2 separate regions of the Homo sapiens genome follow, and region 2 is linked to region 1. The links come from fine-mapping of genetic effects on gene expression. Tissue or cell type: whole blood. Region 1 holds a variant in brackets; the other region holds the start of a gene. All regions are shown on one strand. Distances are from middle to middle.

Region 1 (2,836 bases):
AGCTAAGTAATTTTTTTTTTTTTTTTTTTTTTAAGTAGAGGCAAGGTCTCGCTGTGTTGCTCAGGCTGGTCTTAAACTCCAGCACTTAAGTGATCCTCCTGCCTTGGCTTCCCAAAGTGCTGGGATTACAGATGTGAGCCACCACATCCCACCTTTTTGATTTGTATATAAAATGTAAAAATATGCAAAAGTAGAGAAAACATAATTAACATCTATGTACCCATCACCTAACTTCGACAGTGATCGACACTTTTTTTTTATTTTGAAAGATCTGATTTTATTTTCTGAATCAAAAGTAAGTGTATTCATGTTAAATTTAGAATGTTTTAGCTTTCCATTGATCTTTCAAGATGCTTTCCAAATACTAACAGTGCACAGAACTATGTGCCACGTCTTGTTTGTTTGTTTTTGAGATGGAGTCTTGCACTGTCACCAGGGCTGGAGTGCAATGGCGCGATCTCGGCTCACTGCAACCTCTGCCTCCCAGGTTCAAGCAATTCTCCTGCCTCAGCCTCCCGAGGAGATGGGATTACAGGCGCCTGCCACCACGCCCAGCTAATTTTTTGTGTTTTTAGTAGAGATGGGGTTTCACTATGTTGGCCAGACTGGTCTCGAATGCCTGACCTCGTGATCCACCCGCCTTGGCCTCCCAAAGTGCTGGGATTACAGGCGTGAGCCACCACGCCTGGCCACGCTATGTTTTAAAGAAAAAAGTTTAAAAGTAGGACCTATTTCTTTTTTTCTTTTCATTTTTTTGAGACGGAGTCTCACTCTGTTGCCCAGGCTGGAGTGCAGTGGCGTGATCTCGGCTCACTGCAACCTCTGCCTCCCGGGTTCAAGTGATTCTCCTGCCTCAGCCTCCCGAGTAGCTGGGATTACAGGCGCCTGCCATTGTGCCTCGCTAGTTTTTGTATTTTTAGTAGAGACGGGGTTTCACCATGTTGGCCAGGCTAATCTTGAACTCCTGACCTCATGATCCACCCGCCTCGGCCTCCCAAAGTGTTGGGATTATAGGCGTGAGCCACTGCCCCCAGCCACAAATGTAGGACCTATTTCTAAGAAACCCTTTGTAGAGGTCAGGGTATTGGGAATCCTAATTTAAAAATATTTTTAATCATTATTGGAAATTTAAGTGACAGTGGGTTCAAGAGCTAAAC[G/A]TCAGACCTTTTTTAAAACAAATTTTATTTTCTGAAGGACTTCATACCTGACAACGCCAATTAAACATAATACTCCACCCATCCTACAAATTATTAAATACATTATTTCACCTGGGACTAGGATAATTATAAAATGGAATTTTAAAGTTGTAATATAGCCAGGCACAGTGGTTTGTGCTTGTAATTCCTGCTACTCAGCAGGCTGTGGCAGGAGGATCACTTGAGGGCTGTAATGTGCTGTGTGAACTGGGTGTCTGCACTAAGTTCGGCATCAGTATGGTGACCTCCCAGAAAAGGAAGACTGCCAGGTTGCCTAAGGAGGTGTGAACCAGCTGAGGTTGGAAATGGAGCACATCAGAAACTCCCATGCTGGTTAGTAGTGGGACTGGAGCTGTGAATAGCTACTGCTCTCCACCCTGGGCAGCATAGTGAGACCCCATCTCTTTAAAAAAGAAAAAAAAAAGAAAACTATCTTAAAATATCATTTTAACTGTCATGTTTGCTAGTTGAATTATGAAATCAAAGACAAATTTTATATTTAAGGGACAGATAATAAATGCTGTTCCATTGCTTTATTTTTAAAATTTTGTAATTGCTTTTTTTTGAGATGGGGTCAGTCTCTGGTCACCCAGGCTGGAGTGCAGTGGCATGATCTCAGCTCACTGCAACCTCTGCCTCCCAGGCTCCAGTGATCCCGCCTCAGCCTCCCGAGTAGCTGGGACTACAGGCATGCGCCACCACACCCGGCTAATTTTTGTATTTTTTGGTAGAAATGAGGTTTTTCCATGTCACCCAAGCTAGTCTTAAACTCTTGGACTCAAGTGATCTGCCGCCTTGGCCTCCCATTCTGTGGGGATTAAAGGTGTGAGCCACCGCACCCTGCCTCCTTTTCCTGTTGTCTGCCATTTTGATAAGTTAACTTTACCGAGGAAGAACTTAAAGCAAGATTTTTCCTCTTATTTTTCAGGTAAAGAGATTATAAATCTTCCACTGAATGAAAAAAATTTTCTTAAAGCTGCATATACTCCAAGAAAAAAACCACAAATGTTTTTCTGTTTTGCCTGAATACATGATTTAAACAAGAGATTTCCACAGAAGGTAAGATAAGTTTCTTTTTCAATTTGATTCTGTTTTATTGTGTAATTTATGTAAAAGTTCTGTACAGGTGGAAGTTCAAAGATGGGTCACAGCGAAAAACGTAGTTTAGAAGATATGCTGGCTGGGCACTGTGGCTCACACCTGTAATCTCAGCACTTTGGGAGGCCGAGGTGGGTGGATCATGAGATCAGGAGTTCGAGACCAGCCTGACCAACATGATGAAACCCGTCTCTACTGAAAATACAAAAATTAGCTGGGCATAGTGGTGTGTACCTGTAATCCCAGCTACTCAGGAGGCTGAGGCAGGAGAATCGCTTGAATCCAGGAGATGGAGGTTGCAGTGAGCCGAGATCGTGTCACTGTACTCCAGTCTGGGCGACAGAGCAAGACTCTGTTTCAAAACAAAACAAAACAAAACAAAAAAACAGATGTGCTCATGGTCTGTTGTCTTTTGGTGGTTTTTGATCCTCCTGTGTCTGGTTTTGAGATGCTCTGCATGTTTTTGAGCAAGTTGCTTGGTCTTTCCAAGCCCAAGTTTAATTCTTCTTTTTTTTTTGAGACGGAGTCTTGCTCTGTTGCCC
Region 2 (2,668 bases), 64 kb before region 1:
CCTCCGGGAGACCCTCACCTCTGGACAGGAAAGGGAGGGCTCCTCCCACCAGCTGTTCAGCTGTTCCGTGCCAGGGTCATCTGGGCATGGGGCAGGCTGAGAGCCCCCACTTCCCGGCAGCCTCGCTCTCCCACCCGCAAAGGGCTCCTGAGGAAGCTCAACTTTAAAGCCTCACAGGCTGCGCCGAACCTCCAAGCAAGGGCCGAAGTCAGACATTAAGTGGGGAGGGCGGGGGGGTCCAGGGAAGGTGGGGCACAGGGAGCCCTCCAGGCCGCCGGGATCTGCCGGGTTTGGGGCCCACCCTCACCCTCACCCTCACCCTCACCCTCACCCTCACCCTCACCCTCACCCCCTGTCCTGACTCTGCCACAGCCCACAGTGGGCAGACGGACCCCTTTCTTCCTTTCCCAGGGAGCTTCGGGAAGAGAAATCAAGGGCCTGGCAGGAAGCCCCAGGGCGTCCGGGCTCTGAGACCCCCAGATGACAGGGGGAGGCGGGCTCCCCAGATCTGCCGAATAGCCCGACCAGGGGCGCTGGCAGGGCAGGGGCTTCCTGCAGGAGCAGGGTGCGGAGGGGCAGGGTCAGCAGGGGACAGGCAGGGCTCGCGCCCCCGCTTCTGAGACTTTCTGTGTCTCGGGGTGTCCACCCAGACGCCACTCTGGGAACCGCGAGGAGGCCCAGGCAGTGGGGTCTCGCCAGGTGCGGGTGCTCTCCGCCCTGGTCCCCCCGCGCCAAGCAGGCCCCAGGGGGTGCGGGGACGGCCCCCGGGAGCTCGGGCAAATCCAGGCTCCTGTGCCGCTGAGCCTGGGGCCGGCCCGGAGCGCCCGCACCGCGAGACCATCTCCGCTCGGCGCACGGAGCTCGGCGGCTGAAGAGTGAGAGGCAGGCGCGGAGGAGGGATCCGACGCGGCTCCGGAGGGACGCGCAGCCCCCGCCGCCGGGCCCGTCCCCCGAGTCAACACCGGGAAGGGAGTGGGGCGGCAGCGGCCCGGGCCTCGCCGGATGGACCGACGGACGGGGCCCAGGCCCCGGGAGCCCTCCGCGGAGCCGCAGCCGCCGCAGGTCCCCGGGCCCCAGCGCGGCAGGCCCGGGCGGAGCGGCGCTGACGGCGAAGCCCCCCCCACGCCCAGCGAGACGTCCCCCGCAGCCCAGTCCCCCGAGCTCGGTACCTGCACGTCCGCCGCCAAGGCTCGATGGCGCCCGGGCCGCGCTCGGCGCTGCGCTCTGGCCCGCGCTGCTGCCATGGAGACGGGGCCTTTGTGTGGCCGAGGAGGGGCCGGAGCGCGCGGGAGCTGCCGGCCCCGCCCCCGACGAGGGAGAGGAGGGGAGGGCGGGGAGAACAGGAGAAGGGGGGAGAGGGAGAGGGAAAGCGGAGGGGGAGAAGGAGGGGGAGGGGGAGGGGGGAGAGGGGGAGGGGGGAGAGGGGGAGGGGGAAGAGGGGGAGGGGGAGAGGGGGAGGGGGAAGAGGGGGAGGGGGAGGGGAGGGGGAGCAGGAGCGGGGAGGAGAGGGCAGAAGAGAACCGGAGAGGAGGGGAGGGGACGGGAGGGGAGGGGCTGGGCCTGCGCTCCCCGCGCCCCCCACTTCTCCCCTGCCCAGCGGCCACAGCATTGTCTGGTAGGTTCAGGCACCCCAGTTCAGACCCAGGTTCAGCCAGGGCAGCACCCTGCCCACCATGCCGCCGTCCAGGAAGCACGAGCGCCCACAGAGGCCCCATGGCCTGAGCACCCCCACAGGAACCCCGCAGGTCTGAGGGGAGGCCATGGCTTGGTACCAGGGGAGGGCATTATGAGTGCACTCTCGCCTGGCCAGAGGAACGTGAGGGTCCCTGCCAGTCTTGAGATGTGTGGGCACCAGACTCTCACTCCCAGACTGGAAGCATACCAGTCGCTCCCCTGCGGCCTTCAGGGGTGGGGGCTGCTGGGCTTTGGCCCTTTCCCAGGGGTCTCAGGCCCTCAACCTCCCAGGGTAAACTGGGACCTGGAGATGGCCTCCCAGCACATCCCTGGCCTCCAGCAGCACCTTGGGATGCTGCACCCGGGACCCCACCTGGTCCTTCAGGGCCAGGAGGTGGGCGGGCCGAGACCTCTTTCTGGGGGTTCTGGTTTCTGGGACAGAGCTGGCCCCACTTCTGGCATCCCAGGTCCCAAGTCCTGGCCTCAGTGCTCCTAGTGTCCCCTGGGCTTGAGAAGAGGTGGTGAACCGTCTGCAGGGCCAGACCTTGGAGCACGCCTCCACTGCCCTCCCGGAACTGGATGTGCTGAGCAGGAGACAGAAGCATTCCCCAAGCTCTTGCCCCCACCCTGGGTCACCCCTCCCTGGGGCCCGCCTTCCACCCAGACCTGCCCCGTCCTTGCAGCTGGTCAGCTTCCTCCTGTCCCCAGCCAGGCATCCCCTCCTCCTCTGCTTCCCCCACCCGGGATCCGCCCCGCCACATCCTGACAAACTCCCCCAGCCTGACTTAGTTCTTTCAGTCTCTGCCTTCTCCCACCCTCAAGCAGCCAGGCCTTGTTCCTGTCCAAAATCTTCCCTTGGGCCTTGAACCACAATCCACATCACGGCAACCCTACCCTTCACTGCAGAGGACCCCAAAATTACCAGGTTCTGACAAGGTTGCCAACTTTTTATCAAAAAAGGAAAAGACAAGGTCCAGTCACAAAAGGACATTTT

The links. PIP is the estimated chance that this variant, and not a neighbour inherited with it, causes the effect.
Region 2: it holds the start of PLXNB2, and the variant in region 1 is fine-mapped to the expression of PLXNB2 in whole blood (TOPMed, PIP above 0.99).

What each region holds. Positions count from the first base shown.
Region 1 is chr22:50,369,896-50,372,731 of GRCh38, forward strand. It overlaps PPP6R2 (protein phosphatase 6 regulatory subunit 2), which reads left to right. Exons shown (of 24, transcript NM_001242898.2): 2 at 2,125-2,255. It also overlaps the pseudogene RN7SL500P. Among named protein-coding and RNA genes, the nearest start is that of PPP6R2, 28 kb to the left of the region's middle. The variant G/A (reference allele first, on the strand shown) is at 1,158.
Region 2 is chr22:50,306,384-50,309,051 of GRCh38, forward strand. It overlaps PLXNB2 (plexin B2), which reads right to left and starts at 1,263. Exons shown (of 37, transcript NM_012401.4): 1 at 1,170-1,263. DENND6B (DENN domain containing 6B) reads right to left here. Exons shown (of 20, transcript NM_001001794.4): 20 at 2,647-2,668. RefSeq lists an enhancer at 1-116 and silencers at 424-574, 1,095-1,164, 1,175-1,374, 1,535-1,584, 2,285-2,334.